Linked DNA regions of Homo sapiens: all the other regions are linked to region 2. Evidence: fine-mapped expression QTL. A gene starts in region 2. Each other region holds a variant in brackets. All regions are shown on one strand. Distances are from middle to middle.

What was found. PIP is the estimated chance that this variant, and not a neighbour inherited with it, causes the effect. A credible set is the group of variants that fine-mapping cannot tell apart.
Region 1: its variant is the best candidate, but not a certain one, in a credible set for the expression of RBM18 in whole blood (TOPMed, PIP 0.86).
Region 3: its variant is the best candidate, but not a certain one, in a credible set for the expression of RBM18 in whole blood (INTERVAL, PIP 0.89).

What each region holds. Positions count from the first base shown.
Region 1 is chr9:122,232,127-122,243,224 of GRCh38, reverse strand. It overlaps RBM18 (RNA binding motif protein 18), which reads left to right. Exons shown (of 6, transcript NM_033117.4): 6 at 1,182-5,603. The coding sequence ends at 1,341. Among named protein-coding and RNA genes, the nearest start is that of LHX6, 8.7 kb to the right of the region's middle. RefSeq lists a silencer at 5,689-5,889. The variant A/C (reference allele first, on the strand shown) is at 6,611.
Region 2 is chr9:122,259,131-122,270,228 of GRCh38, reverse strand. RBM18 (RNA binding motif protein 18) reads left to right here and starts at 5,389. Exons shown (of 6, transcript NM_033117.4): 1 at 5,389-5,514; 2 at 8,721-8,849. The coding sequence starts at 8,737. It overlaps MRRF (mitochondrial ribosome recycling factor), which reads right to left and starts at 5,347. Exons shown (of 7, transcript NM_138777.5): 1 at 5,291-5,347. RefSeq lists enhancers at 4,930-5,089, 4,265-5,235, 4,658-5,857, 5,236-6,207.
Region 3 is chr9:122,326,546-122,337,643 of GRCh38, reverse strand. It overlaps MRRF (mitochondrial ribosome recycling factor), which reads right to left. Exons shown (of 7, transcript NM_138777.5): 7 at 6,307-11,098. Among named protein-coding and RNA genes, the nearest start is that of PTGS1, 39 kb to the left of the region's middle. RefSeq lists enhancers at 1-568, 569-1,174. The variant A/G (reference allele first, on the strand shown) is at 4,499.

The DNA.
Region 1 (11,098 bases), 27 kb after region 2:
TGAGGCAGGAGGATTACTTGAAGCCAGGAGTTCAAGACCAGCCTGGACAACATAGTGAGACTCCATCTCTACAAAAAAAGTTAAAAAAATCAGATGGGGCTGGGCGCGGTAGCTCACGCCTGTAATCCCAGCACTTTGGGAGGTCAAGGCGGACGGATCACGAGGTCAAGAGATTGAGACCATTCTGGCCAAAATGGTGAAACCCTGTCTCTACTAAAAGTACAAAAATTAGCTGGGCGTGGTGGCGCTTGCTACCTGTAATCCCGGCTACTTGGGAGGCTGAGGCAAGAGAATTGCTTGAACCTGGGAGGCGGAGGTTGCAGTGAGCCGAAATCACACCACTGCACTCCAGCCTGACGACACAGCGAGACTCCATCTCAAAACAAAAACAAAAACAAATTCAGATGGATGTGGTGGTGTGTGCCTGTAGCCCTACCTACTCACGAGGCTGAGGCAGTAGGGTTGCTTGAGCTCAGGAGTTCAAGGTTTTAGTAAGCTATGATGGCACCACTGTATTACAGCCTTGGTGGCAGAACAAGACCCTGTCTAAAAAAAAAAAAACAGTATAAGTAAAATGCACTGTGCCTGGCTCATTGTAAGCACTTTGTAAATGATAGTTTTTATTAACATGCATTCATCAGTAAAAAGAGATTGTATAGGATTTCCAGAATGTTTTTTTTCCATTTTTATTCAGTGATTCAGGTGAAACCTGGGCTTTTGAGTCAGTTTGTATTCAAATCTCTGCTCTATCGTTTACTTGCTGTGTAACATTGGGCAAATGAACCTTTCTGTGCCTCAGTTACATCATCTGCAAAATAAGGAATATAACCTATCTTATAATGTTGTTTTCAATTCTAAAAGAATTATTTTTAGTACCTACTCTCTGCCAAGCATTAAGGTGCTAACAGTGTCTGCGTCTGAGGATTAAATGTAGAACTATATGAAGTACTCCCAACAATGTCCAGGCTTATGTTAAAAACTTAATAGATGGCTCAGACTTGATCTGTTTCTTAGAATGAGAGAATTAGTTATTTCTGGCTTTTATATAAAATGTTTAAATGTCTGTAATTTAGTATCTTGTTGCGTCTCTAATATTCCCAAGAGGCTCAAGGAGAGGAACTGTACAGCTATTTTCTGAATATACCTAGGCCCACTCTGATCCTCTGCTATTATTTTTCCAGTGTCACTGCAAAGATAAAAGCCATTGAAGCAAAACTGAAAATGATGGCGGAAAATCCTGATGCAGAGTATCCAGCAGCGCCTGTTTATTCCTACTTTAAGCCACCAGATAAAAAAAGGACTACTCCATATTCTAGAACAGCATGGAAATCTCGAAGATGATGGTTGTGAATTACTGTAGCAGCAAAAGCAAATTGGTCTCCACACCTAAAATCGTCTGCCTGTGTACTTTGTAGATGTGAATGGTACTATTCAACGGAGCACAATCACATGTTAGCATTTGGTAACATAATGTTTTTGGATGTTCTTATGGATGTTTCTTCCCTAAACTATGTATGGAATTGAGCATCATCCAGAATAAATAGCGTTGTATCCCAAATTGTGATTTGAACCCTGGGATGCTCTAATTGGCTGGTTGGTTTGGATTTGTAACTCCAGAAACATTCTATAGTGTGCCAGAGCAAAAGGCAAATACACAAAATATTATTTAAATCAGGAAACTAAAAATATTAACATCTATTAAAAAATTGAGCATTTTTCTACGCTCGTGTGTCTTTTACAACATAAAGAAAAAGTAAAAGGCAGGGAGGGAAGTGAGAGACAGATTTTAAATCATGTTCAGAACTGTTGTTCCAGAATTTACTACGGCAATCCCTCCAACTGGACTGAAAAAGAGAAAGTTCTTGGCAAAAAGGAGCTGATTCTTTGAACAAATGTTGTAGTAATCTGTTTAAGAATTATGCTTATTGTTTCAAAATCCCAACTAGGAAAACATGGTGTATATCTTAAAATTGTTTGTGTTGACAAAACTAGAATCAAATTTAACATTTTATACCACAACACAAGTTCTATTTGGAAATTGAACTTTTATTCTATAGCAACCATTTTTTTCAAATCTAAATAACCATGCCTTCTATAATAACAAATGTTGCTATTATCATGGGACTTTTAAAATTACATTTATTGCATGGGATTGTTTTTATAGCATGAGAATGTTCTGTTTGGAATTATATCATGGTCAGTCTAAATAGAAAAAGCAAAATTTCTTTGAAAACCTAAACATTGCTATATTGGTCACTATCAAACATACAATTTTCTAATAATTGTGTAGCGGTCTAAGTGGAAGAGATTGCATTATCTTGTGCAGGACGAGGAGAGGACATGCAGTGGGCACAGAAAGTCAATGGAACAGATGCCACTGTGGCACCAAGACTGTAATGACTCTGTGTGGTAGGTAGTTTTAAAGGACTGCATGCCTTGGAAATGATTCTTCACTTGGAGAACATACTTGCCTCTAGATATGTTTGTCACTCTAAGCATCCTGAATATAACAATAGAGAAAGATAAGTCAACCAACAGATTTAGGGATGTGTTTCTTCAGCACATTTTGGTCATTTTGATGCCAAGTTTGACATACTGTTTAATTGGGCAGCACCTTTGCTCCTTTACCAGGTATGTATCACTTTGTTACTCCAGGTGCCATTCTTGGTGATGACAGAATGTTTATCACTATCGTTGTTAGCAAGAGGAAGCTTTCAATATAGGAACTTAACATCTTCCCATGAGTATAAATGAATTTAAGACATTTGAATCAAAACTTCAGTAGAGGGAGGTTTTAGAATTCATAAAACTGGTTTAAGGAAATTCTTTTTACTTTTCCCAAGGTTAATCTTTTTAAATATCTCTAGACATCAAATACTTTCTGTATGTATTAGCTGTGTCTGTCTATGATGCAAGTAACTCTCCTCCTATTTGGGGGATAGTTCAGAGAGGTAGGAGCATTATCTCCCATTTTTCTGGTGACTTCTTGGAGTATAGAATTCACCATTTTATCCGTAAGTCTTCAAAGGATTATGGTGGACTAGAACTTACATAGTGCAAAATAGTCTTCTATTTTTAATAGGAACTTAGAAAAAACTTAGAATTATATATAGAGTTGTTTCCTTTAGAAACCAGAGCTATTTATTTGTATTTAAAGCACTGTTTATTATTTGTACTGATTCTTATCCCTCTGTGTGAATAAATGTAAGACGGTGTCCGTGTGGTTATATCTTCTCTCGTTCACTTACTGGCATAGACTGCAGTTCTCTGACAGGCTTGTTTCCACTCAGGACTCTGGCCAGCATGTCCACGTGGGGTGCTTCTTCTAAGTGCCTTCTCTGCAGAGGGTTCTGGCTAGAGAGTCAAACTGAGAGGCAACTCTCTTTACCCTTTATGCCTGCCTACCTCTGTTGTTAGAGATGAGAATAGAGACCAGCTGTTTCCATTGCAAATGTCACTATTTGAAAAGAAGTTGTTAATGGAAATCTCTGCAAGTATCGTACTGTGTTTAGTCTCTCGTGGTAGAGATTTCAAAAGAAGAAATGTATGTATCCTAAATATGCTGAAAGCAGTCTGATGAAAGGTTTTTAAATTTCAGGTGTTAACTTGGTCAACTCTTTGTTAGGAGGTTGTCTGTACTTTAAGTAAAATTATTCTTTGGTTTACTGGTTATTTTGGTTTGCTAAAATTATGTCACTTATAATTTTGATTTATATACAAGAGTGAAGAATTGAAGGAAATACTGAGGAGAGACGTATGAACTATTTTCTTCATCTCAATTCCTATTTTATCAAATGCAAAATGTAATCCTAACCAGTTGATTTTCTATAATTGGTATCTTAGTACTGGGGAGGAGTATCACATGAGGAAAGATTTTTCAAAGCATGTCAGCTGAGGCACAAGAATCGCTTGAACCCAGGAGGTAGAGGTTCCAGTGAGCCGAGATTGTGCCACTGCACTCCAGCCTGGGCAACAGAGTGAGACACCGTCTCAAAAAAAACAAAAACAAAACAGGTCAAAAATCAGTTGCACAAGTTGTATGAAACCAGGTATTCTGCAGCTCTGTCTCTTGTTTATTAAGATATGCACAGTTTCTGAATCAACAAATATATCTGTGATTCTTTTATACTACTACATAAAAGAACAGGAGTAATTCTTGCCTTATAAATTAAATGTCAAACATTTCCTATATGTAATCATTTGTTCCTAAAATATGATTTAGTCCCAGCATGCTTATCCCTGTTTTCTCTTTTTCTCTCCAGCTCCTATCTAGTTCTTCAACAAATCCTGTCAACTCTACCTTCCAAATGCCTCTTGAATCCAGCCATCTCACCACCTCCAACACTACCACCATTTTTCTTAAAGCCACCATCATCTCTTCCCTGGACTATTACAATACCTTCCTAATTATCTCCCTGCCTCTGCTATTGATTCTTTAGGGTCCGTTTTCCACACAGTAGCCAAAGCAATTTTTAAAAAAATTATTTTAAAATGTGATTCTCTTCTTTGTGGCTTTCCATCACAGCCTAGAAAAAATTGAAAGATCTGTAAGGCCCTAATGACCTGTCCTTCACTACGTGTCTGACCCTATAGCCTACTGTTCTCCCCTTGTGCGGTGTACTGCAGCCACGTTGGCCTTCTTGCTATTCTTTGAATACAAGGGAGCTTCTACTTCAAGGCATTTACATTGGCTGTTGCCTTAGCTTAGAACGCTCTTTCTCCAGATAGCCGCAGAGCCCGCTCTCTCACCTGACTCATGTCTCTGCTCAAATGTTAATGATCAAGAGGCAGTCCCCGGCCTCCCTCTTAAAATTACAACCTGTCACTCTCCAATCCTTTCCTCACGATTTTCTCAAAAGCACTTACCGCTAACCAACATTATATCTAAATTTTTTTTTGTCTCTTTTTATTGGAATGTAAGTTTCATGTAAGCAGGAACTGTATATCACTGCTATACCCTCAGCATTTAAAACAATGGCTGTACATCATACATACTCAATAAATATTTGTTGGATAAACTACAAGAATTCTGGTATTTGAGAGCCAAAGGGCCTTAAGAGACCATCTCATATAGCCCCCTCATTGTCCAGATGGGGAAAACGGGAACCCAGAGAGACAAAGCGATTTGGCCAGGGTCACCTGGTTAATGGGAGAGCTTTAGGTAGAACCCAGGCCTGCAAACATCTAGTCCAGTGTTCAGCAAACTGGCCTCTGCCTCCTAATTTTGTATAGCCTACAAGTTAAGAATGATTTTTTTTTCATTTTCGAGTGGTTGAGAAAAAAAGTAAACAAAATATATATACTATATTGTGACATGAAAATGATACGAAATTCAAATCTCAGTGTATGTTAATAACTATTAGAACACAACCATGCCCAGGCATTTACATGTGGCTGTTTTCCCCATATAATAGAAGAGTTGAATAGTTGGCAATGAAGACTGTGGCCTACAAAACCTGAAATATATACTATCGGTCCCTTTACAGGAAAAATTTGCCAAACCCTACTCTAAACAATATTCCATGACTGGAAATGTGTTTTCTAAAATTCTCGTATTAATGCAGAGAATAAAAGCAACAGATGTCAGAATGATGTGCACCGAATATTGTTTCTTAGTCAATGTCTCTGACCCCTTACACATCTTTTGGGATAGAGAACTGGCTGTGCCAGCCCTAGTGGCATCACTGTACTGCTTAAGGCTATCAATGTGGGCTAAATCCTCTCATTGTCCCTGTGAGGAAACTAAGGCCGTAAGAACTTGGGCTTCAGATTTAGACTTGTAGCCCCAGCTATGTAAGCAGATTTGTCAGGACTCCCAGCTCAAGTGACAAAAACACTACTCCAACTCCCTTGCGGTAGAACATGTATTGGTTCATGTAACTGAGAAGTCCAGGTGTTCAGTGAAATGGTTAGGATTCTGTCTATCTCTTGATTGTGTTTTCCTCTGGGTTGGTTTCATTCTCAAGCAGGCTCTTCCTTGTGGTCTCTGGAGAGACCTCTTGAATCCCAGGTTAAAAAGAAAAAAACAAAAACCCAAAAAAAACAGATCTGTCAGAATTTATCCGAGTACGCAGGTCTGTGTCTTCTTTCCTCTGCATTCAATCTTAAACTTGGCTAAGATTACTGATTATGCTGAATGACATTTAATTTTTACATGCCCTGTGACTTTTCTAAACTAGAAGCATAATTTTAAATTTTCACCTTAAAAAACAAGTTATGTGTTCCTCTTCTGAAAACAGGCCTATCCCATTTGAGAAGCTTTCTGGTGGGCGACCTCATCAGAAGGAAGGTTACTCATTCCTGAAACAGATGGCATTTGCCATGTGTGATGCGTGGAGGGTGTAAAGATGATGAGGCAGGAGCCCTGTGCACTGTGATGTACCGTGATAAAGGGACGACTCAGCAGCTTCAAGACACCAGAGGATGGGAACCAGGCTGGGAATGGGACATGGTGACATAGGTGATTTCCCCCCGAGCTGAGCGGCCAAACGATGTTTAATAAGCTGCGTAAACGGTTTAAGGGGGACGTTGAACAAAGAACAAAGCCCCAAAGTGAGAGATATTAAGATTTAATCTAAGTAAGGAGTTAAGATACTTCCAAATACCTAGA[A/C]CCATAGGATAAGCCAGGTTTATGAGGCCTTCTACAAATCAGTCCCACTAGGCATTCTCCTAACCAGACTAAACTATTTGTGCACCCTAAACATGATGGACTCTCCTGGATTCCCCTGTCCTTGTACAAGATGTGCCTTCTACCTGGGAAGTCCCTTCTGCCCACCCCCACCACTTGTCTAACAGATATTTTCCCACCCATGCTCATTCCTATAAGGCAGTTAATTGCCTTTCTGCGTCTTAACGACCTGGGTCTGTTTTAGCACTTATCACTACATATAATGTGCTTTATAATTTAAAAAACGATTCTCACCAAAAGTAAGATGAGTTTCAGGGGCAAATTACCTCCCAGAAAGCAAACAAGCCAACTCTCTTCTCATAGATGGGGTAAATTCCAGCTGCTGTAAAATCTCCACTTCCAAGGCTTCCGCTGCTATCCCTACCCTGATATCTCTGAAATTCCTTCTCTTAGATCCAGGCTCTCTTCTGAGCTGCAGAGCCATATGTCCCGTTCACTCCTGGGCACTTCCACTTGAATATTCCCTTGGTACATTGACTCAAAACCGAGCTCATGGATCCCTCTTGCCCTTCCTCAATTGCTCCCATGTTCTGTGTCACTGGGAAAAATAAAATAAACTATTAGAAACCTGAGAGTTATCTTGAACATTTTCCACTCCCCCACTCCCTATATCCAGTCTCCTAAATGTTATATAGCTGATGATATCATATATGATACATTTGTATGTATTTATACCATATATACTACATATATATGATTCTATATATAACCTTAATATGTAAAGTTGGTTAGACGTGGTGGCTCACGCCTGTAATCCCAGCACTTTGGCCAAGGCAGGCAGATCACTTCACGCCAGGAGTTTGAGACCAGCCTGGCAAAATAGTGAAACCACGTCTCTACTAAAAATACAAAAAATTGGCTGGGCACGGTGGCTCATGCCTGTAATCTCAGCACTTTGGGAGGCCAAGGCAGGCGAATCACCTGAGGTCAGGAGTTGGAGACCAGCCTGACCAACATGGAGAAACCCCATCTCTACTAAAAATACAAAATTAGCTGGGCGTGGTGGCACATGCCTGCAATCCCAGCTACTTGGGAGGCTGAGGCAGGAGAATCGCTTGAACCCAGGAGGTGGAAGTTGCGGTGAGCCGAGATTACGCCATTGCACTCCAGCCTGGGCGAGAAGAGCAAAACTCTGTCTCAAATAAACAAAAGCAAAAGCAAAAAATTAGCTGGACATGGAGGCACGTGCCAGTAATCCAGCTACTCAGGAGGCTGAGGCATAAGAATCACTTGAACCCAGGAGGTAGAGGTTGCAGTGAGCCGAGATGGTGCTACTGCACTCCAGCCTGGGCGACAGAACGAGACTCTGCCTCAAGGAAAAAAAAAAAAAAGATGATTAGAAAACTGGATGTGTTGTAGATATGTATATGATGATATACAACATAATAAAGTAAAATAATAAACTTTTAATTATTTTATTTCTGTTCATCCTCCTTGTTCCTGCAGCTGCCTCATTCCTTCTCCCTTAGATTACTAGTTAATAAACGTTCAGTATTGCTGCAATCAATTAAGTACTTACCCCTTCAAATCTATCTTCAAACCAACTACTTAAGTCATCTTTCCAAATCTCCAACTTCACCATGTCATCTCCATGCTGACAAGCCCCTCATAGTTCCTATTTTGAAGTTGAAATTCCTTGGCATTCTATAGAAGACTATTTGTGAGGCTATGTGTAAGCTGTATCTACCCTCTGCTGGAAAAAGATTAATACGGGAGATTTATTTTCAATCATGTGGTCAGGGTAGAATTCTCTGAGGAGGGAACATCTAGCACCTTGAGGATCCCCACTTAGCTAGTGCCTTCTGTGTGACCATTACCTCATCTTCTTAGTGGTAACAGTGATAACAATGTCTCTTGGTGGCCAAGAACTTAACTCGTAGATGCATCATGGTCTCCTGGTATCATCACAGCACTTGTCAATGGGTTATCTATTAATCCCCATTTTACGGTTGAGGGAACTAAGGCTCATAGAGTTTGTGACTTGCCTTCGGCCCCCCAACCAGTGTGTAACAGGGTCAGGTTATCAATATAGGCCACCTGGCTCCAACCCCGGAATCCTTAACCACTGTGCTGTGCAACTCCTGCAGGATGCTGCTTCCTGTGTCACTGTAGGCTTGTAGACTCCAGCTTCCAAGATGAATCTAACCTCGTCAACACTCAGCTCCCCACAATCTGGCTCCTGTCTACTTCCCTAGCCTCATCTCCCTTTGTTGCCCCAGCAAACACTAACTGGGCCGCCACTCTTTATCCTGGTCCAACTCCTTTCTGCTCTTGCCTGTCTGTACTTACTCATCCTTCAGGACTTATCTGAAACGTCACCTCCTCTAGGAAGCCTTCCTGATCCACCACCCATAAGCCAGGTTAAGTGACCCTCCTCCTTGCTTCTATAGCACCCTTTGTAGCACCTGTCACACTGCACTGAGTTGCTGGCTTTCTTCTCTCTTAAGAGACTGTGGGCTCCTCAAGGGCAGGGACAAGGACAGCTTCCTCTATTTCCTGGGCCTAGTGTGGAACCTGGTATGGAGTAAATGCTTCACAAATGTCTGCTGACCTGAACTTACTTAGCGAATGTCAGAGCTTCCTGGAAGGGGACTTCCAGTAACTATAATTGTTCACATTTGCAATATGCTTTGAGGTATGCAATATTGCTTTGCCATATACTTTGAAGCTTTGATTTGTCCCCTGCCTTCATAAAGAATTTGATGTGGTACCTAGTAGAATAACAAACAGAAAATTCAGAGAGCCCGTGCCACAATGACGGCTAATGTTTATTGATTGACTACTGTGTGCCAGGCATATTTCTGAGTCCTGTCACATGGATCATTTGCGTAATTTTCACAACCATAGGAGTTGAACTCGGTTATCCTCACTTAACAGATGAGGAAACTGAGGCTGATGAGTGACTGAAGAACTTTTCCAGGATTACCCAAGTAATAAAGGGAAGTGACAAGGTTGACATTAAGGCCATCTGGCCCCGGAGTTTTGTGCTTCTCAAATCCCTTTCACACTGATTATCTTATTGACTCCTCTGAGATTGATATTGTTCCCAGATATTGATATTAAGAAAAATGTGTTTCAGATAAGTGACTTTTCCAAGTTCAGCGTGCCAGGAAGTGGCTGGGCTGGGTTGGTGGTCTATCTTACGCCCAGGCTCGCTCCGTCACTTCCACATCGCTGATTCACACGCGCATTTTGCAAACAAGGACACTGAGGCCAGGAGAGGTAAATTGCCGGCCTAGGGTCATACAGTTTGTACCCCATTCTGTGCTCTTTCCTCAAACAGGAAATACCTAGGAAGCTGATGGGGTGAGGGTAGGTCCTAGGCTTGGAAGGGGGGTGCTGCCGTGTCTCTTCCCATTGTCCCTTTCTCATTTGTCACAATCTGAATGTTTAAATTTCGTATTTAGTATTTACTCTGAAATGGCTTTCATCTGATTTCCCCCTTGCTCACCAATTTAGCTGTCAAAGTAAATAAATGTGAAGCTGGGTCTCCAGCCTCCCCCAGCTCACATTACCTTCCTAGAATTACTCCCCGGCAGGGTCGAACCATTGCTGGGGGCCTCCCACAGAATTATCCAGTTACTAATGAAGCCTCTTTCAAACTGAACCCTTGGGCCTAGACTCAAATGGGGGAAGATGGCAAAATTCACCCCAGAGGACCAGATGACCACATCCTGTTTAGTGACCGGGAGAAGAACTGCAAAGTGAGAAGATGCCATTATTCATGTAGGGTGCTTAATACAGCTTCAGGGTTGTATAAATGAATAAATCTACAACACTTTAAAAAATATTAGTTCTTTTTTTTTTTTTTTTTTTTTTTTTTTGAGATCGAGTGTCACTCTGTTGCCAGGCTGGAGTGCAGTGGTGCAATCTCGGCTCACTGCAGCCTCTGCCTCCCAGGTTCAAGCAATTCTCCTGCCTCAGCCCTCAGCCTCCCGACTAGCTGGGACTATAGCCACCTGCCACCACACCCGGCTAATTTTTGTATTTTTAGGAGAGACTGAGTTTCACTATGTTGGCCAGGATGGGCTTGATCTCCTGACCTTGTGATCCACCCACCTTGGCCTCCCAAAGTGCTGGGATTACAGGCATAAGCCACTGCACCCAGCCAAAATATTAGTTTTTAATGTATAGTTAGTTGTCACTTCAATTCTGAGAGGTCAGTATCATTATTCCCCGTTTTGCAGGTGAGGAACTGAGGCTCAGAGAAGCTAAGTGACTCAAAGTGACCCACAGTTTGTCATAGGAAGAAATCAAGTATCCTAATGGAAGGTACTATGTTTGCTAATCCTAATTTTGCCAAGGTCACTCCTATCTGGACTCTTTTTCCTGATGGAAAAAGATGGAGTCAGGAGTCATTGGAAGAGAGATTTCTTTTCCAAAGTAATTTCACTTCTGTCCTCTTTGAAG
Region 2 (11,098 bases):
ATGGAAAGATGCCATCGCCTACAACTACCTCAGGATAGAACACAGCCCTAGCTAACTGACAAATATATCATTGATAGCTTCTGCCAGTAATGTTGCTATGGCTCAGGTAAAAATTAAGAACAATTAGTATCAAATACCTGGAAGCTGTTTCCTTTGAGTAACAGTCCCACACCTTATTTTTTTTTTTAAATCCCATCCTAAAATTTTGATCCAACACAATGGAATGAATAACATGGGCTTTGCCGTCAGGAAGACCTGGAAGCCAATCCTAGCTCCATTACTGACTAAATATTCCTGAATATTTCTGCTCCTTGATTTCTTCAACTATAAAATGGGAATAATTGTACTCATTTCTTAGGGTTAGGAATAATTAATGAGGTTATGCAAGTAAAGCCCTTGACACAGTACTTAGCAAACAGCAGGAGCCCCCCAAAATAATACCTGTTGATAGCTATCACCTTTTTTTTCAAACTTTTAAAAAAATATTATCTTTATTATCTTTTGAGACTGAGTCACACTCTGTTGCCCAGGATGGAGTACAGTGGCACGATCTTGGCTCACAGCAACCTCCACTCCCAGGTTCAAGCAATTCTCATGCCTCAGCCTCCCAAGTAGCTGGGATTACAGGCACATGCCACCATGCCCAGCGAATTTTTTTGTATTTTTAGTAGAGACAGGGTTTCACCATGTTGCCCAGGCTGGTCTTGAACTCCTGGGCTCAGGCAATCCACCTGCCTTGGCCTCCCAAAGTGCTAGGATTACAGGTGTGAGCCACCATGCCCGGCCTCTAAAACTTTTATGCCAGGGTCAGACACAATAAAGAAACCTTGTATGTTATTAATGATGTACAAAATAGCCTACAATCAGTCAGACCTGGATGTAAATTTCAACTTTAGGCAATTTACTCTTCTTTTCTGAGCATCACTTTCCTCATCAATGATAAAAATAACCTTGAACTTAAAATAAAATTTAATAATGAATACATGTAAACAACTAACATAGTGCCAGGAATATAGCAGCTTAATGAATGATGGCTATTATTATTATTATTTTTTTTTTTTTTGAGACAGAGTCTCACTCTGTCGCCCAGGCTGGAGTGCAGTGGCACGATCTCGGCTCACTGCAAGCTCCGCCTCCCGGGTACACGCCATTCTACTGCCTCAGCCTCCCAAGTAGCTGGGACTACAGGCGCCTGCCACCACGCCCGGCTAATTTTTTGTATTTTTTAGTAGAGACGGGGTTTCACCTTGTTAGCCAGGTTGGTCTCGATCTCCTGACCTCGTGATCCACCCACCTCGGCCTCCCAAAGTGCTAGGATTACAGGCGTGAGCCACCGCACCCGGCCTAATGATGGATATTATTTTTAAAGCAAATGAGTAGCACAAAGGCAAATCATTTCTCGCGATGGAATTTTTAACAGTAAGGGATACTAGAAGTTAGTGATCAGTGTATGAAGTCTATAAAACCAGATTTGATGAAAAAAGGGAATATTTTTCTTCTTTACTAGTATCAATAGCTACTATTAATTGAGGTCAAGTTTGGACTGTTTGCTTTAACCATACTATTTCATTTAATTCTCTCAATAATGCCACAAAGAACGTATAATAATCCCCATTTTACAGATGCTGAAACTGAGGTTCAGAGAGATTAAGTCACTGTCCAAGGACATGGAGCTAATAGCCAAGCTCTATTTTAGCAGAACTGTTCACAGAGGTTTGGCTCAGAGTGAAGTTTCTATATCTAGGTTTTTCCCTAATAAAACCAATGCCTAACTCATACTTATAACCAAATATGGCTGTAGAATAATGAGTAGATTTTATTTTAGTCTACAGGGTCTCAATCTGGCTGCTCCATTTAAGACAGGTTTCCTGGTATTCCTGTTGCAGGTCATAATACCAACTCACAAAGCAACAGGAAATCAAAATGGGTTAGAAATAAACAACCTTTGACAGAAAACGCAGCACCCAAAAGCAGACCCAGTACACGTGAACCGGAAGACAACTCTATAAATAAACCACATCGCTGAAATGCTTAAGGCGTAGATTTTAATTGCACAGAAGTCAAGAAATTTCAAAGTGGAAGTTCAATAAAAGCAGTCCTTTAGGTCCTTTACCTTAAGGGTATACAAATTAACATTCAGTTCAGCACAGATAAAGAATTAAAGTTGAAGAAAAATTTGTTGAGATCCCAAGTATGAGCCAACAAAATTAACCTATACATAGAAGCAATGTGGGGAAGTGTCTGAGCTTTGGACGCAGTCTGGAACTGGAATCTCAATTCCCCCACTTACTAGCTGTGTGACCTTGGGGAGGTCATTTAGCCTCTCTGAGCTACAGCTTCCACATCATCATCATAGTGATATTAATGAGACTTTAAAAGATAACAATAATGACAATACCTAACATTTATATAACAATGACTACGTGACAGAAACTATTCTAAGTGGTTTATGCACATGAACTCATTTCAGCCTCATGATAACCCTGAAGTAAGTACTATGATTATTCCCACTTTACAGATAAGAAAACAGAAGCAAAAATCTGCCCAAGATTTGAATTCAGTCAATCTAGCTCTAGAGTCTATGTTATTAACTGCTATACAATGCATATAGAACACTCAGCATGGCTGGGAACAGTGATGGGTGCCTATAGTCCCAGTTACTTGGGATGCTAAGGAAGGAGGATCACTTCAGGCCAGGAGTCCAAGGCCAGCCTTGGCAATATAGTGAGACCTAGTCACTTAACAAAACACATACACACAGTACAATGCCTGGCATCCAGTAGGTACACAATAAATTGTAGCTATTATAATAGCATCCCAACTATTAAATTTTTTTTTTTTTTTTTTTGAGACAGAGTCTCACTCTGTTGCCCAGGCTGGAGAGCAGTGGCACGTTCTCAGCTCACTGCAACCTATGCCTTCCAGGTTCAGGGGATTCTCCTGCCTCAGCCTCCTGAGTAGGTGGGACTACAGGCACCCACCACCACACCCAGTTAACTTTTATATATTTTAAGTAGAGATGGGGTTTCACCATGTTGGCCAGGCTGGTCTCAAACTCCTTACCTCAGGTGATCTGCCCGCCTCGGCCTCCCAAAGTGCTGGGATTACCGGCGTGAGCCACTGCGCCGGCCTGAATTTTTTTTCTTTTTTTTTTTTTTTGAGACGGAGTCTCACTCTGTCGCCCAGGCTGGAGTGCAGTGGCGCAATCTTGGCTCACTGCAACCTCCGCCTCCAGGGTTCAAGCCATTCTCCTAACTCAACCTCCCAAATAGCTGGGATTACAGGCGTGCGCCACCACACCCAGCTAATTTTTGTATTTTTAGTAGACGGGGTTTCACCGTGTTAGCCAGGATGGTCTCGACCCCCTGACCTCGTGATCCGCCCGCCTGGGCCTCCCAATGTGCTGAGATTACAGACTGAAATATTTTTTTAAACTACTTGAAGCACACATTCTTTTTCCAAAGTTGAGGGTCTCAAACGATTTCCCTGTTCTTCACAGAAGGTTCATTTTAATTTTGGCTAGATGACCAACCCAAAATCCTGGCTTATCTACTGTCCCAGCAACTCTTTTCAATGCAGCTGTATACTAGCTTATAACATAAGCACTTCTATGAGTGTGCATATACGCAGGCTCTTGCATATAAAATACTTTCACATGTACCATCTTAACTGGTTCTCATAACTAAAGAGTGATAATCACCACCCGTATTTTGCAAAATAAGAAAAGTGATCTTTCACTTCTCCAGGGCTCCCCCTGCTCCAGGGTCTTCAAACATGCCATTGAATCTCCTTGATGATCTTCCCTCACCTCTTTAACTGTTTGTCTCCGTTTTTATTTCAGATTTCAGCTTAACCATCACTTCCTCAGAGGACGGCTTCCTTGGCCATCTCCTACAGCCCAACTAGGTCAAGTGTCCTGTAGTCTGCTTTCATAGCACCCTTTACTTCATCATAGCACTTAATTCTTAACAATACAAGCTAACATTTGTGTAATTATTTGATTGTCTAATTCCCTCCATATGACTCTAAGTACTACAAGGACTAATCTATGATTTTCTTGTTCACTGCTGTATCCCCAGTACCTGGTACATTGCCAGAACACAGAAGACACTGTGAATGTGATGAATACATCAGTGAAAGTCCAGAAAGATAAATTCCTTATCCAGGGTAAACCAGAATCGGATGGGAATCTACCCTTACTATTATGGTAGGTTCTGGGCTTCCCAGCGTTGCCTCCACTGTCTCTGGTTTGCCAGATTTTTGCTTAGAGATAGTAGATGATGTTCTTCTCTAAATGCAGTACCAGGTAAAGAAAGGTACTTGTAGTATCTGACTATACACAGAATCATTATGCACCTGGCACGGCCAAAGAAGGAATGAGACACTTTAACAGGTAGAGAAAGGGCTTTTGCCTAAGAGTTAAGAGATCTGGATTCCAGTATGCCTACCTTATCACTCCCTGCCATCTGCCATTTAGATTCATAATCACACGTATTCAAAAAGCATTTGCGGCAGCTCTACCACTGACTTGTGACTTGTACCAAGTGATTTCTCCTACGTAGATTTTGTTTCAACCATAAAATGAAGGGGTCAGATCAGGTTTTCATTCTTTCCAACTATAAAGCTTTCCAAAATGGGGGGAAATGCAACAGTGTGGTTTAAAACAAAATAAAGGCACTAAACTTAGAGAAAACTCCGAGTCTTGGTTCCAGCACTTCCTAGGCACGTGACCTTAAATCGGTCAAACTCTCAGGACTTCCGTCTCATCTGTAAAACGTAAATGACAATACTATTTGTCAGGGTTAAGTAAATGGAGAAGGGCTACTGAAATGACAACTGTTTTGCCACTGGGTGGCACAGAGTGGTGGTTAAAAGTCCAGGCTTAGGAGTCGGATAGCCCTAGGTCTGAATTTAAGCGCCCTCACTTTCTGACCGCGTGACCCTGGTAAAATTACCTATGTGAGCTTCCGTTTCTTCATTATGGGAGATAATAATATCTACTCCTATGGGATTGTTCTGAAACTCAAACGTTCCCGTCAAGTGTGCGGCTACTCTTTAGTAAGTTCCTCCAGCATCCCCTAAATTCCTAGCTGGTAAAAGGAGCCCCGCCCCCACCCCATGAGACTCGCTCCAATGCCACAGGTCCCGCCCTCAGCCTTAAAGGTCAAGCTGGACTCGAACGGGTCGGGGACGGTAGTCTGGTCCCCTGAGGTCCCCCAGAGGTCCCTGAGTAAGGGTCTCTGGCACCCAGACCACACGCGCCCCTCGAGGCCCTGTCAAGGACACTCACCAGCTATCGCCCAGGTTACTAAGGAAAGACTCGTGCGACGGCGGCGACCGCAGCTGCGCGGACGTCGTGACGTCACGAAGCCAGGAGGCGGCGCAGGCTTAACGCGTCACGGGCGGCCTGGCAGCTGGCGGCATTGAGGCGGACGCGTCTAGAGGTCCGTCTGACCGCGGCGTCGGGACCTGGTTTCCGGGCATGAGCTGAGAGCACCACGCCGAGGCCACGAGGTGAGTTCGGCCGCGACATGTCCCTGCACCTCAGCGATGGGCCCGCTAAGAGGTCTTACAGGAGGCCGCCCTCGCAGGACTGCATCTCAGGCCCCGCCCCGGATTGTCCTGTCGCTGGCCCGGAAATAACAATCCGAGTAATGACCCTTCGCCTGTAGGAATTCGCAGCCAGAAATCGGGAAGCCAGGGTTCCAGGCATGACCCCACCGCTTGCTGTTAGGATCAGGTGTCTCTTCTTCTCTGGATTGCACTTTCCCCAGATGACTATTTCTGGCTTCCAGAGTTATTGCAGCTCAGCTGGAAAGACAAATGTAACCGCGTTTTGTGAACTCTGGTAGTCTAAAGGATTGTTGCTATTGCAAACGCAAAGCATTTTGATAGTCCCGTGCCGTCTTGATCTTTTATTACCCTTTACCTTTCCTCAAAAAGCCATATTCTGAGCTGTCACCAAAATTGTCTTATTTAAGACTCACAACGACCTCGTGAGACGACAAATTGTACCCATTCTAGGAAGGAAAAAGAAACTAAGTCTTCGAGTGGAGAAGCGGCTTGCTTCATTTAGTAAATATTAAGCACCAACCGTGAGACAGGCAGTGTACTTAAGTGCTAGAAATAGAACCGTGATCAAGATTGGCAAGGTCCTGTGCTGTGGGAGCTTACGTTCTAGTGAAGGAAATAGAAGAGGAAACATTAAGTAATACATTGAATTAGCATTTAGTAGGAGGAAAAAGATGGAAAAGTGGCTATGATATAGAATAACAAGGAACTCTGTTTAGGAAAGCTTTTCTATCGAGAGGATGCTTAAAGAAAGGTCATGTGACTTGCTAAAGGTGCAGTTACTAGGTGCAAAAGTCAGGATTTGAACCCAGACCCGCATAGCCTGCACTCTTACCAGTAAAACATGGTACCTTTTCGTGGTAATAAATATTAATAGCTATTGGTATTATTCCTGATTTTAGACATGAGAAAATCAGAATGTCCTATCATTCAAGTCCCAAATGTCATCTCCTTTAGAGAGGCCTTCCCTCCACTCAATCTATAGTCGTCGAGTCCCTGTCACATCACCCTGCTTAATTGTGTTTGTGGCATGTATCACTAATTATATCTTCTTTATTTATTTTGCTTTTGTTTTGTCCTGCTCCCCTTCCAAATACAAGCATCCAGAGGATAGGGACCTTGCTTGTTCACTGCTCTGACTCCAGTAACTGGATAAGTCCTAGATAATAGAAGCAGTGAATTTATTTTTTGAATGAATGATTTGTTTAAAAAGTAGGGGGAAAGGAAAGCAGAGGGAAGACAAAAATGTGTCTCCCCTGGGATTAAATTTATGTCTGTTTCACCTTTCTCCCAGGAGGTAAGAACAAGAGCTGTGGCTTTTTCATTTGTCTATTTCAGTACATAGCCCAGAGTTTAACAGTTCCTAGTTGCTTGACTTACATTGCTGAACAGATTAAAGATGTGAATGGGAAAGGAAGAAAAATACCCTCATGTGCAGGGTATTCAATAAACAATTACCTAGGGACTGCTGTGCTAGACTTTACAGGGTGTGCTGAGATGATTAAGAGGTAATGGCAGTTGTTGTGACTGCCTCCATGGTTCCTGTAGTGCTGACCTCTGAGGTACTTCTGGGTATAGGATATGTGTTCTCTAGCAGGGACTTCTGAACTCTGACACAGCCTGCTGTCCTCCCAGCCCCTAAAGCTTTATTTCACATCTGTCGTCTCATTTTTGGTCCTCGAAGCCTTAAGTTATAAACAGGGCAAAATTTATTAAAGATGGGTAAACTGAAGCTCAGAAAGAAATAACTTCCAGTGGAAATGCCACAGTTTGTGCTGGGCATGGTGGCTCACACCTGTAATCCCAGCACTTTGAGAGGCCGACGTGGATGGATCACTTGGGGTCAGGAGTTGGAGACCAGCCTGGCCAACATAGTGAAACCCTGCCTCTACAAGAAAATACAAAAATTAGACAGGCTTAGTGGCATGCACCTGTAATCCCAGCTACTCGGGAGGCTGAGGCATGAGAATTGCTTGAACCCGGGAAGTGGAAGTTGTAGTGAGCCGAGATCGTGCCACCGCCCATGAGTCTGGGCAACAGAGCGAGAGTCTGTCTCAAAAACAAAAAAAAAGAGAAAGAAAGAAATGCCACAATTTGAAACAATGTCTTCTGACACCAAGGTTTCTGCTCTTTCTACTGCTGTCTCCATCATAATCATAATCCTCTTTTCTCCTTGGCTGTGAGATGAGACATTTCAGGAACTAAGACTAGTAATAATTTAAGCTAACATTAATTGAATGCTTCCTAGGTGCCATGCACGGTTCTAAATGCTCTAGGTGTATTAACTCAGTGAATCTGCACTGTAATTTCATGAGGCATTATCCCCATTTTACAGATGAGGGAACTGAGGCCAACAGCTGTTAAGTAACTTGCACAGGGCTACATAGCTAGCAAATGGTGGAACTTGAATAACTAAGGAGGAAATTAGTCTCTTCTTCCTGGTCTGTCCCAAAAGAGTAAGCATGATAATAGCTAGTATTTATTGATTACTTACTGTTGTTAGATACAGTATTTAGTGATTTTTTTACTGTCTTTAATCTTCACAACAACTCTATAAAATAAGCACTATTATCTCTCTAGATAATGAGGAAACTGAGGCCTAGAAAGTTCAGGTAGTTCATCAAGTCACACAACCTGCTTTCAAACCCAGTTCTGTCTACGCACAGATTTCTTATATTGCCTCTTCTCTTTGCTATATTGCCTCTTCTCTTTGCTATATTGCCTCTTCCATGAGGAAAAGGGATGGAGTGCTGCTCTTCCCTACCCATCCCTTTTAATGCCATTAAGACTCTTCCTGGTGGTTTCCAAGGCTTATTTTGGGTGACAGTTGTTGAACTGAAGTATCATGTAGTAATAGAGACTTTGGCCTCCTGCCCAGTCAGCCTCTGGCTTCAGAGGAGGAAAACTTTAGTTTCTCCACACAGAACCACGCCCCTTTCACCTTAAATGGCAGCTTGTGTGCCCTGGCTGCCAGAGCAGTTGTCCCAAGGGAACTGGTTCTGGGGCCCTGGTTGTGGAATCACTGAGGCCTTTGAAGGACTGCCCAGAGGGCATGCCCTCCTTGAATAAATGTTTGTTGAGTTGAATTTGAAGTCTTGTGTTCACACATTGTTACTCCCCTCCTGCCTGAATGTTCACATTTCCTTTAGTATTTCATAGACATTGATGGAAGCAGAAACCAAAACTCTTCCCCTGGAGAATGCATCCATCCTTTCAGAGGGCTCTCTGCAGGAAGGACACCGATTATGGATTGGCAACCTGGACCCCAAAATTACCGAGTAAGTCTAAGTTACCTTAGTTTTTTACCTACAATATTGGGATGTTTTGTGGTGATGATGTCAAGAAGAATTTTCAAGGGGTGTGGGATATACTTAGACCCTTTTACTTACATCGTGTCTTCGGAGAGATAAGATGTTGTTAGCCTGTTATCTTGTCACTTTTTTTACATTTGGACTCTGCTACTGCAAGGACACAGACTTGGGTATCCTTTAATCCATATACCTGTTTTTTTCCTATCTGCCAAAGACGTTCTCCCATTTCCAACTATTTGAATCCTTGTACCTAGTAGCTCTAGGGAATTATTCTCTAGAATCAGCCTTGGGAATACATTTGTACCCAGAATAAAGGAACAAGCAGAAGTCTCAGTACCTTTGCAAACAGGCAGAGGAGACCACTTGACTGTAATTCATATTAAGCAGCCATAGAACTATAGAAGGTCAGAGTTGTAAGGAACCTTAGAAATCATGTCCCTTTGGTTTTCATTCATTCATTAAATGATTTGAGTGCCAAGTGCCATGCTAAGCAGTTTGCAGACTTCTTAAATCTGAAGAACCCTGTCTTAGAGTAAAAGTAATAATCAGAGCTGTATATAAAATAAGAGCTCAGAGTTGCTCTGACTAAAAGGGAGAAGAGATGGAACCAAAATCTTTTGTCAACTACTACCCTTTCTTTGGCCATCCCTGTTTAGGCTCTGTAGAACTTCCAGGGCTCCATAGAGCACACTTGACAACCTCTGATGGGACCCAGCTTTTTTATCCTACATAGAGGAAACCAAGTCCCGAAAGACAGAAGTACCTTGCCCGAGTTCACGAAATTGATTGAATTGCCCTGACTCCCTGCTCTTTTACATCACAGCCATTAAGATGAAAAGGAATTTCTTAGCTGAGAAAATTGAGAGGTTTTTCCCTTCTGCCAGTTATTTGATAGAGGGAGGGTGGTGGTTGGTGGCAGAGTACAATGAGTGGATTGGCCTGTATGAGGTCAATGCTGAAAGCCAGTTTTTTTGTTTGTTTGTTTGTTTTTGTTTTTGTTTTTAAGACAGTCTTGCTCTGTTGCCCAGGCTGGAGTGTAGTTGCACAATCTTGGCTCACTGCAACCTCCACCTCCTGGGCTTAAGCAATTCTCATGCCTCAGCCTCCCGAGTAGTTGGGACTACAGGCATGCGCCACCATGCTGGCTGATTTTTGTGTTTTTAGTAGAAATGGGGTTTCACCATGTTGACCAGGCTGATCTCGAACTCCTTACCTCAAATGATCCACCCACCTTGGCCTCCCAAAGTGCTGGGATTACAGACTTAAGCCGCCATGCCAGGCAGAAAGCAAGTTTTGAGCATATCATCAGTCCTAGAAGTTACTCCCTTTAGAATAGTGTTAAAGACAAGGGGAGGCCGGGCACAGTGGCTCACGCCTATAATCCCAGCACTTTGGGAGGACGAGGCAGGCGAATCACTTGAGGTCAGGAGTTTGAGACCAGCCTGGCCAACATGGTGAAACCCCGTCTCTACTAAAAATGAAAAAATTAGCCAGGCATGGTGGTGCATGCCTGTAGTCCCAGCTACTTGGGAGGTTGAGGCGCGAAAATTGCTTGAACCTGGGAGGCGGAGGTTGCAGTGCACGGAGATTGTGCCACTGCACTCCAGCCTGGGCGAAAGGTGAAGGGAGGAGATGAGGAAACCTGCTTCTTTGAGTATGAGATGAGACAAGGTATATATGAGAGTTAAGATTAGGAAAGAGAAGAAAAGGATATAACCTTATAAATCAGGATTATAACAAAAAGTTCCTTAAACCTGCTCAAGCTCATATCAGCCAAATGTAAATATATTCAGTTCCCTTAGAAATTATGACGGTATTTAAGATGTGTTGCCCACATATTATGTTATCTTGGTCACAGGGACCCTAGAGTGGATTGCATTTATTTCAGTTCTCTTTTACGGTTCATGGCTTTTGAGGGTGAGTATATGAATCTGTCCAACCTCTCAATTAATGTCTCTTCATCAAAGAAATTTTTTCCATCATCCAAAACCCAGGCTATGAGGGGATGCTCATAGTGGTTTCCATTCCCACCTCTGCCTGTCTAAATGGAAATCTAAAGTGTGGAAACAGCGTTGGTTGTGTTGGCTGCACTTCTCTGTAATGAGACTTTTGTTCTAATTGTGTCCTGCTGCTTGACGGGAAGGTTCAAATGGGCATTTGCCACCTCAGTTTATGTCATAAGTTGGAGTGTGTGGATGTTTTTTTCAATTAGAACA
Region 3 (11,098 bases), 67 kb before region 2:
CAGCCCAGCTGCCAGGGCCTTAACTTCACATTCCAGTCTCTGCCCAGAGAGAGAGCCTGTCCTACTCGGAGCATCCCTGTGCTTCAGTTCACCTGGAGAACACTATCCTGAATGGGGTGCCCAGCCTTGGCCACAGAGGCTGCCCACTGCAGGGTGCCCCCTCCTCCAAGGCCCCTCTCCCAAAGCCTGAGCAATCAAGGCTGCTGCCTCCCTGGGCTGGTGCAAGTGCCCGCCTCCTCCCGGCCCCTCTCCTCGGCTGCAAACCCAGCTCATTTGCATGTGGATCGCGCCTGCCACCATGGGTGCTGGGGTCAATTGAAACTCAAGAAAAGAGAAGAAATTTATGCAAAACTGTTGATTGCATTTGTATGTAATGAAATCATCCAATATTCATCTGACTATAGAATCTAATCTGAGAAGAGAACTGAAGGACATGAGTGTCACTGCAAAACCGTAATGAGCCACTGTAGTGATTAAAAAAGCTCTTGAGCCTTCTGAAAATCCAGGCAGAAATAGCGTCTAATCAACTCTGAATATAGGAGGCGAGATTGGGCTGGCGCGTTGCGCACGGCCCGCCGCGGTGCTGGGGGTGCGTGGTAAACCCTGGCGGCCGCGGTCTGTGGGTGCCAATCGCCCGGCACCCACCACAATCAGCCGAGCCCTCGGCGCACAAAGCAATCTCTGCCTCTCGCCATGCAGAAAGAGCCCAATCACAGCTGTTGTGAAGAGCAGCTTGAGGCTTCTGCACCGGCCTCAAAAGCCTCACCTAAGGCCTCTTCTGGGTTCCTTGCTCCAACCGAGAGGCAGGAAGAGTTTGGGGACCTGGGCCTGCCATACCTGGACACACCTGTGGCCCAGACAGCCCCAGGCAGGGGAGGGTCTGTGTCTCGCAGAAGCCCTCGCTCATCACTGAAATGTCACCTCCTCTGTGAGGCATTCCCTGACTGCCCCATCTAAACTGACAACCCCCACCCCCTCACCACCACCCTCCCAATTCTTTAACTCCTGCTTTGTTTTCCTTCACAGCACTCAGCTATGCCTGGCACTAAGTTATTTCTCTATGGATTTAATGCCTGCCTCTCCCAAGTAGACCGTGAGCTCCACAAAGGCAGGGACTTTGTGATGGTTTGTTTACCCTGTGGAGTGTGGAGAACCATGCCTGGCACTTAGTAGGTGCTCAACAAGTATCTACCAAGATGCTTAAATATTTGTTGAATGGCTACATCAGTTTCACTAGGAAGCCACATGTATTTATTTGTGCATTCAGCAAATACTTGTTGAGTGTACAGTGTGTGTCAGGCTTCATCCTGGGGACTGAGCGTGCAGTGTGAATGAGACAGTTCTTGCCTTCTCAGAGCTCACAGTTGGGGCAGGAGACAGATGCGAAAGTCGTTACATATAATCAGATGGGATAGTGCGGTGCTGGGGGCAGACCAGAGGCTCTCAGAGCTGCTAAACCCAATCTGGGGAGGTCAGGGAAGGCTGCCCGGAGGGAGTGACATTGGGTTGAGAGCTAACGGACATATAGAAGTTAGCAAGGCCAGTAGGGCCTGGAATGTCCCAGGCAGAGGGAACACCACGTGCAAAGTCCCTGAAGTGACAGCCACCGGTGGGGAGCTGAGAGACGCCAGAGCAAGGAGAGGCTGGGGTGAGATGGGGTCAGAGAGATGGTCAAGCCTTGCAGTTAAGACCTTGGGTTAAGAATTTTGGATTTTTTCCTGGAGGTCATAGGGAGCCTCTGAAGGCTAGTGGCCTGATTTGCGTTTGAAGAATTTACCCTCTGGAGAAAACGGATCAGAGGGCCAGGCATGAAGAACAGAGAGACTGGTTAGGAGGCTATTCAGTCATCCAGGTAAGGGGGAGCCACTGAATGTTTTTGAGCAGGATGTTATAGCAAAGGCTGTGTTTTTGTTGTTGTTGTTATTGTTTGTTTTGTTTTTTGAGACAGAGTTTTCGCTTGTTGCCAGGCTGGAGTGCAATGACACAATCTCAGCTCACCGCTACCTCTGCCTCCCGGGTTCAAGTGATTCTCCTGCCTCAGCCTCCTGAGTAGCTGGGATTACAGGCATGGGCCACCAGGTGCAGCTAATTTTGTATTTTTAGAAGAGATGGGGTTTCTCCATGTTGGTCAGGCCGGTCTCAAACTCCTGACCTCGGGTGATCGGCCCGCCTCGGCCTCCCAAAGTGCTGGGATTACAGACATGAGCCACCGCGCCCTACCTAGGCTGTGTTTTAAGGTTATTAATCTGACGGCAAGAGATAGAGGAGAGGAAGGGAAGTGAGGTAGAAGCCAGAAATCAGCCTGGCAGTCCATTCATTCATTCATTCATTTGTGTATTCCTCATTCAACAGACATCTCTGTGTGAAAGCTGCCCTTCTCCACATTGTAATTTATAGTTTCCAATCTGCTCTGGGTTTTGATACCAAGTTACCTATTATTAACACAGGTTCTAAAGCTGTAGTCAGTCAGTTCTGAGACTCCAACGGACTCTGTGGATCATGAGGCTGCTTATTTTGGCATGGACTTTCTGACATCAAAGTGTTCTTGTGAGTCATTTGCCCTGTTTAGGCCTTAAATTCCTCATCACTACAAAGAGGGCGCCAAACTAGATTATCTCTAAGACCCTTCTCTGCTCCCCAAACCCTGCAATTTTTTGCCCCATGAAGGCTTAAAGACATCTCAAACCCCGGCAGCTTAAAAATCCCAAAGTGCGGTCTGACCTGCAGTCTGTTAGACTCCACTGGGCAGCCAAAGGAGCAGGGAGGAAATCAGGAAATCTGGGTTCAAGTCCCAGCTCTGCTATTCACTGACTGTGTCGTCAGTGGATGAGTTCTTCCCCTCTCTGTGCTTCAGTATCCCACTTGTAAAACATGGAGCTGTCTAGAAGTGGGAAGAGCTATAGCAGACCCAAGACACATCCACCTCCTAACAGGTCAGATGGGAGTCCCAGTTCCAACACTCACTGCATCTGTGACTTTAGCAAGGCACTTAGCCTTTCTGAGCCCGTTTGCTAAAAATCTAAGCCCAAAGGGCTGTTGTGGGAATGAAGTTAGATAATGTGGCTTAGGGGCCAAGCATCGCGTAAATGCTCCATGAGTAGTGGCTGCCTGGATGGGTGGGCTGGGACTGATGTCCTTTCTCCTTCCTTCTCTACAATGGCTCCATTTTAACCAGCAACTGGGATTCACTGGGGGCTGGAGAATTAGTTTTTTTTTTTTTTTGGAGATGGAGTCTCACTCTGTCAATCAGGGTGCAGTGCACTGGCGTGATCCCGGCTCACTGCAACCTCCGCCTCCCGGGTTCAAGCGACTCTCCTGCCTCAGTCTCCTGAGTAGCTGGGATTACAGGCACCCACTACCATGCCCATATTTTACATCCATCCATGGAAACCCCACTCTTCAGCAGGTAAGTAAACGCAGTACATCTATATGGTGCAGTGGTCAGCTGGGGCCATGTTTCAACAAGAATAGGGCCCTCAACACATGATGGGCAGTGGAAGAAGCAAGCAGAGTCCTATTACAGCATGATGCTATTTATACAAACTGGAATTACACAGACACAAAGCAATTCCTTTAAAAATGATGCCTAAAATGTTTAAAAGGGCAGGAGGAATTTAGAGGGATTTCTATTTTTAGTAGAGATGGGGTTTTGCCATGTTGGCCAGGCTGGTCTCAAACTCTTGACCTCAGATGATCCGCCCGCCTCTGGCTCCCAAAGTGCTGGGATTACAGGTGTGAGCCACTGTGCCTGGCCAACAATGGCTCCATTTTAACCAGCAGCTGGGATTCGCTGGGGGGTGCTGGAATTTGGGTCTATTTTTTAATCTGTAGCTTTGGGTGGAAGGGGTTATAATGCATCTCTAGCCCACTAGGATGGGTTGGGGAACGCTGCTAGCTAGAGGCCTTGTTAGCAATGTGGCCACAACCAACCAGCTAACAAGCAACAAAGCGATTCCTTGGCCACAGCAAACAAGACTTCCTCCTTCCTCCCTGAACATTTTTGAATAGCAGCTCCCCACTAGAGGTAGATCCTCATTCTAGAAGCCGTGCTTTGAATTTCAGGAGCTCCACCCTCCCACCTCCCCACATCGTAGTGGATTGTGGGTGTTGGAACCGAGAAATGGTCAGCACCTTCCTGGTTTGCCTCCTGCAGTAACAGGGTGGAAGACCTAGGCTCAGTCTCAGATACCTCTGTACTGGAAGTCCCTGCCCTTGAGGGCCTCCCATTCAATGGGGAAGACAGTCCATGAACATCACAAGGGGAACCGCGAGGGGGAAAGTGCTTAAGAGCCCTGAGAGTTTGGTACAAGGGGAAAAGGGAGACCGTGTCTGATTGGTGGATGCATTCCTGGAAGACTTCCTGCAGTCGGAGGTATTTGGGGTGGGTGTGGAGGATAGCTAGAATCTCTCTCTCTCTCTGGAAAAAAAAAAATTAAAAGTACAGGGGAAATAAAAACAGAAAACGAGGTTAACAACCACACCTATTTTCACAGCTCCA[A/G]ATTAACATTATGTCAAGTTTTCATGTACATATCCATACACACACACACACACACACACACACACACACACGATGACTTCAGGGTATACTTTAAATCTTCCCCCCACTCCCCAGTGTCAATCACCGTTAGGAATTTAGCCAGTATCCCTCACAATCCCCCCTGCCCTTTTAAAACATTTTATAATGCAAAGTAGGCATCGTTTTTAAAGGAATTGCTTTGTGTCTGTGTAATTCCAGTTCGTATAAATAGCATCATGCTGTAATAGGACTCTGCTTGCTTCTTCCACTGCCCATCATGTGTTGAGGGCCCTATTCTTGTTGAAACATATGGCCCTGGCTGACCACTGCACCGTATGGATGTATCACGTTTACTTACCCTCTGAAGGGTGGGGTTTCCATGGATGGATGTAATAAGGGGAAGACATTCCAGGTAGAGAATGTGGCAGAAGCAAATGCATAGGGATAGAAAAGCAGGGGTCCAGGGCGGAGGGAGCACCGGGCATATTTGGAGGAGCAGGGGAGGTGCAGTTGGCACACTGGACATCTGGGTTGTGGGGGAAAAGGCCCCCCACTCAGAGCCACCACAAGTCCTCAATAATTCCACTTAACCACTTTCCAAGTCCTCCTCAGGGAGGCCTATGTTACTCTTTCCATTAATTGTCTCATTAATGACCCACTGAAGTCAAGTACCCATTGTTCTCTGGGCCTGGGGCAGCCTCCCTGGCTTTGCCCCTATGGGGATTTGTAAACGTCTTTCCTTCCCCTGCTTTCCTTTGGCAGGCATCCTTATCTAGTCCCTGCAGCCCCGGCAGGGCTGATGCGACACTTCCTCTACCCACGCCCTGTGCCAGAACCTGGGGCTGCCCAAAGCCACCAGGCCTGGCTCACCCTCCCTCTCCCCTACATCTCCAGCTGCCTCACTCCGTCTCCACCTATATGTGTGTCTGTCTTCTCCTCTCTGCTCCCCTCCCTTCTTTCTTTTTGTTTTTGTTTTAAGGAGCAAAAAGTTTAACAGGCAAGAAAGAAGGAAGAAGAAAACAGCTCCCCTGCATAGAGACGGAGGGAGGGGTGGGATTCGAACAAGTAGAAAACCCCCTCCCCTCCCTTCTTTCTAAACTGTTTCTTTTCCTGGTTTCTGTTGCCTTCTCTGTGTGTACTTCTCTGTCCTCCTCTGTGTCTGTCTCTATCTCAGTCTCTGTCTTAGTGGGTATCTCTTTTGGAGTATCTCTACAGATGATACTGTCTCTGACTCTCACTGTCCCTGTCTGTTTTCTGTCTCTGGGACTGTCTCCATCTCTCTTCCTGGGTGTCTCTCTGTGTCTTTGTCTCCATGTGCTGATCTCTGTGTTTGTATGTGTGCATGCGTGTGTGTTCCTATTTTTGTCTCTGATTCTGCCTCTATCTCCCTCCCTCTGTCCCTGTATCTCCCGTCTCTGTCTCTCTCCTCTCTCTGACTCACCTCCCCCAACCTGTCCCTCCTCCCTTGTGGGTCTCTCAACCCTTCTGATTGACTATTGTCCTGTTTCCAACCCCTGCCTCACTGCCACTGCTCACTCACCCAGGAGTCCCCGACACCCACACAGGTCAAACCACCTCCCTCCCTTGCTTCTCTCCCTAGTTACAGCTCCAGCTTCCCTTGGATGACAGCCTCGGGGACATCAGAACTAGGAGTAGGCGTGAGGTCCCATAGCTCCGAGACTTTGGGATTCATACATCTGTGAAGTTAAAAAACAGAATGAAAGGAACCCACAGAATGTGACCAATTATTTTTTCTAAATAAGGATTTCTAAAGAATCACCAACTTATCATTTTATAATAGAAAGGATATTTTAATGCCAAAAACAAAAGAGAAAGCTCTAAGAATAGGTAATAGTCCGTTAATTTAAATTAACACTTTTATAAAAACATTTGCTACATTACTTTTATTTTACTTATTTTGCCCCCGATGGGTGAAGATGTTAGGGATCAGCACAGGTTCTCTGGCCTCATTGGAAACCAGAGAACTTGCCCAAGCCTTTCCCACAGAGAAGTGGAGAGACCTTTTTTTGAGGGAAGAAAGGGCAAAACTGCGACAGGACCCAGAAGCTCTCACTGGCTACTTAGCACCTCACAAGTCCCTTTCCAGCCCCACTGGTCTCTTAGTGAAAATAATGTATGAGGCTGCCTAGTTGCGGGTCAGACAACAGACTCCCTGATGCCAAGTGTTCCTCTGTGTGGAGACAGAGTCTCGCTCTGTTGCCCATGCTGCAGTGCAGTGGTGCAATCTTGGCTCACTGCAACCTCTGCCTCCTGGGTTCAAGTGATTCTCCTGCTTCAGCCTCCGAAGTAGCTGGGATTACAGGCGCCCGCCACCACACCTGGCTAAATTTTTTATTTTTAGTAGAGATGGGGTTTCACCACGTTGGCCAGGCTGGTCCCGAACTCCTGACCTCAAGTGACTCGCCCACCTCAGCCACCCAAAGTGCTGAGATTCCAGGCATGAGCTACTGCACTAGGCCCTCTGTGTGTCTCTGGACATGTAACTTAACCACTGTCTGTGCTTCCTTCCTCACTTGTAGAATGAACAAAATAACAGCTAGCTCCTTGAGTTGCCTAAAATCTAGTAAAACTTGTTAGCCACTATTATTATCAGGAAGAGGAGGCCTGGGGAGTAGTGTCTTGGAAGAAGGGAGCTATTTGGATCAAGGCCTGAGCCAGGAAAGGAAGAGAATAGCAGGGACTTTTGCCCTGCCCTCCCCTAGGCAAGCTGTGAGCCTCGGTCAGGGGCAGCTAGCTCGCGGAGGAGCTGCTGTCTTTGGAGATTTAGGGGCTCTAGAGCCTAGCGAGGCTGCTTTGGAACTCAGGGATGCACGGCAAATGTGGGATGTGGGCAGAGACCTTCTCCCTTCCTCTTCAGGGCTTCCACCCAGCATGCTCAGACCCCCTCAGCCCAGCAACCAGCACTTTTGTCACAGACACTAACACTCCCAGTAGTGGAGGTAAATCTCCCTTAAGTGTCACTTGTGGCTGCAGATGCTAGCAAAGGGAAGCGCCGGTGGGAGGGGAGTACAGTAGATGCCAGTGGCCTTGGATGCCATGCGGTCCCTTAAGATGTCTAGAAACGCCTGAGGCCGACTTAGCAGATGAGGTTGAAGGTCCTGGGCAGGCAGGTGAGGATAATTAGAGAAACTCTGGGTTATTCATGTAAATGTGACGCCATTTGTATCAAGGCCTGGCAGGCCCCTTAGAATTAGACAAACATTTCCTCAACACCTGCTCTCGCCACATACTGTGCTAGTCAGAGAATGCACAGACTAAGACAGCAGGGGACTTTCTTGCCAGGAATTCACACAAGGCTTATCTAGGGTTAGCCATGTTCTGCCTCTGAGCCAAGTGTCTAGAGACCCGGGTGAGGCCAGCCTGGAACATTTGCCACATCTGTTCCCTGGTGAGCACCACTCAAGGGTGTGCCCAGGAAGGAAAGGAAAGGTCTGTTGAAGGGAGAATTGACAGGACTTGGTGACTTATTGGATGAGGGGAGAGGGACAGGGAGGCAAAAGTGGCTCCCAGTGTCCTGGCTTGGCACCTGGGTGGATGGTGAGGCTTTTCCTGAGAGAGGAAACGCAGGTGGGTAGCTGAACGTCAGATGCTTGAGGCAAATCCAAGCGCTTAATAGGCATAGGCAGGTTTAGGGATCAGGAGAGGCATCGGTATGGATAATGAATGAATGAATCAGGAGAAGCATCGGGATGGATAATGAATGAATGAGTTAGTGTAAGGAAGAACATGGGACCAAGAAGGGCTTATAAGACTAGGTAAGTTTTGCCTGCTGGTGGGGAAGTGGTTTAAGGGAGCATACACTAGGCAAAGAAAATAGCCTAAGAAAAGGCTTGAAGGTGAGAGAAAGCAGCACAAAATTATTAGCTTTCAGAAAAGCTAATAATTCCGTTTCGCTTAAGCACTGGTGGTATCAGGGTAGTTGTAAGAGATGCATCACAATTAAAGGAATACATCAGGCCCAGATTGCAGAAGTTACTGAATGCCAGGGTGAAGAGTTTACATAATTCAGCAGGCAACAGGGAACCAATGAAGGTTTCTGAGAGAAGAGTGACATGATAAAAGCTGTTTCAGGTTGTTCTAACTTAACAGCGTAGGATGGACTGAAACACAGACCAGAAGAAAGGAATGTAAGAGAAAGGGATCTTCGGGCACAGCTGTGCATATCTGCAGTTCCAGGATCACTTGAACCCAGGAGTTCAAGTCCAGCCTGGGCAACATAGGGAGACCCCTCATCTCTTATTAAAAAAAAAAGAGAGAGAGAGAGAGACAAAGAGGCAGACAGAGATAATCACTTATTTGTTTATTCCACAAAAACTGAACTTCGTCTATGTGAAGCAACCCTCTTCCTCATTCTAATCTCTAATCCTTTATCTGCTTAGGGCTAAAACACCAAATCACTTATGTTAATACTGAAAATAAAGAAAAAGTAAATGGGTTCTACTAAACATATCACTATTATAAATAAATGTAAATGAATTTAAGTGTCTGTTAAAAGGAGCTTTATATATACTTATTCATATATACAACAGATTACTCAGCCTTAGAAAGGAAATTCTGATACATGCTACAATATGGATATACTTTAAGGACATCATGCTTCAGTGAAATAAACTAGTCACAAAAAGACAAATCCTGTATGATTCCACTTAACATGATGTTCCTAATCAAATTTATAAATTCATAAATGGTGGTTGCTGGGGGCTGAGAAGGGGGAACTGGGGTTGTGTAATGGGTATAGAGCGTCAGTTCTGCATGGTAAAGAGTTCTGGAGGATGGTTGTACAACAATGTAAATGTACTAAATGCTACTGAACTGTACACTTAAAATGGTTAAGGCTGGGCACAGAAGCTCAAGCCTGTAATCCCAGCACTTTGGGAGGCCAAGGTAGGAGAATCACCTGAGCTCAGGAGTTTGAGATCAGCCTGGGCAACATAGCCAAGACCTTGTCTCTACAAATAATTTTAAAAGTTAGCCAGGTGTGGCGGTGCACGTGGCTGTAATCCCAGCTACTCAGGAGGCTGAGGTGGGAGGATTGCTTCAGCCCAGGTTGTCAAGGCTACAGTGAGCTGAGATCATGCCACTGAAATCCAGCCTGAGTGACAGAGCAAGACCCTGTCTAAAAAAAAAACATGGTTAAGAGAGTAAATTTTATGTATATTTTACAATTAAAAATAAAAATAAGAAAAAAGGAGTTTCAGAATGGTTCATCGAACAAAACCCAATTCCAAAAAAAAAAAGAAACACCTAAAATAGTGATTCTGAAAGCTTAAAAATCAAGAAATGGGGAAAGCAAATGTAAACAAAAAGCAAGCAAGAGCTGTAATCCTGATATACAACAAGATAAAATTCAGACTAAGAGCACTGAATGAAATAAAGAAGATGTAAGCGTCTGGAGCGCTATGTATAAAACAACACAGCAGTACTTTCACAAAGCAGAATCCATTTTCATAAAGCAGAAAATGCAAGAAGGAACAGAAATGTTAATAGCAGGGGTCTGAAACACACCACTTTCAGTCCAAGACTCATCAAAGGGTCAAAAAATAATGGAAAACCTAAACAACATACTCTATAAGCTACATTTCCTGCATACATATCAAAATTTGTACCCCCAAAATAGGGAACATATCATTTCAAATGCACATCATGAAAAATGACCGTCTATTAGGGCAAAAGAAAGCCTCAAAGTGGCTTTTGAGGATACAAGCTTTTATGATCACTCTTTGTCTAACCGCAAAGTTTCACTGAGTGGTTTCAATGCAACAAAGAATGTAGAAGCAGTTTGAAAACTAAAAAGCACCAAGCAAATATTAGTTACTGATCTGTCAATACTGTTATTGTTGTTATTATTATCATTATTCACTGCTTGGTGAACATTTTGCTTGCTCTCTGACATATTCTAGAGAAGTTGGCCAAACAGGTGGGGGATTAATATGTAATCTTTACTGTCTCCATAAGAGCTACCATTTCTTTGGTGTTTACAATGTGCCAGGTACTATGCTATTTTACTTGCAGTCATTAATTAGGAACAGCTTGCTATGTGTTTTATGAAAGCAAGACTTCTGCTTCTCTCACATCACCGTCCAGGTCCAGAACAGCGCGAGGTCCCTTTTGAGTAAGTGTTCAGCGAAGACTTGGGAACCAAAGCACACTGATTAAGGACCTACTTCAAGGTCAGATGTGGGTTTGAAATTTCATTCTAGCACTTACTACCTGTGTGACCTTGGGCAAGTTAAATATCCTTTCTGAACCTGTTTTTTTCACAGAAAAACACAGATAATCATAACACCTACATTAACAAGGATTCATCAGAAGTTTCAATGTGGGAACACGTGTAAAGGGTCTAGCATGGAACCTGGCCGACTGTAGGCATTCAATAAATGTTAGCCTGAGGTTGAAGGAGAAAGAGCAGACCTTATCAGATAATCTTAGAATAGGGGCCTTTCTTTTTTCTTAAAAAAAAAAATCATCTTTAAACATTCTCCAATGCATGTGAAATAATTTTTAAATAGTGTCATGGGCTAATAGTGAATTAAGTTATGGTAGACCCATATTATGGAATAC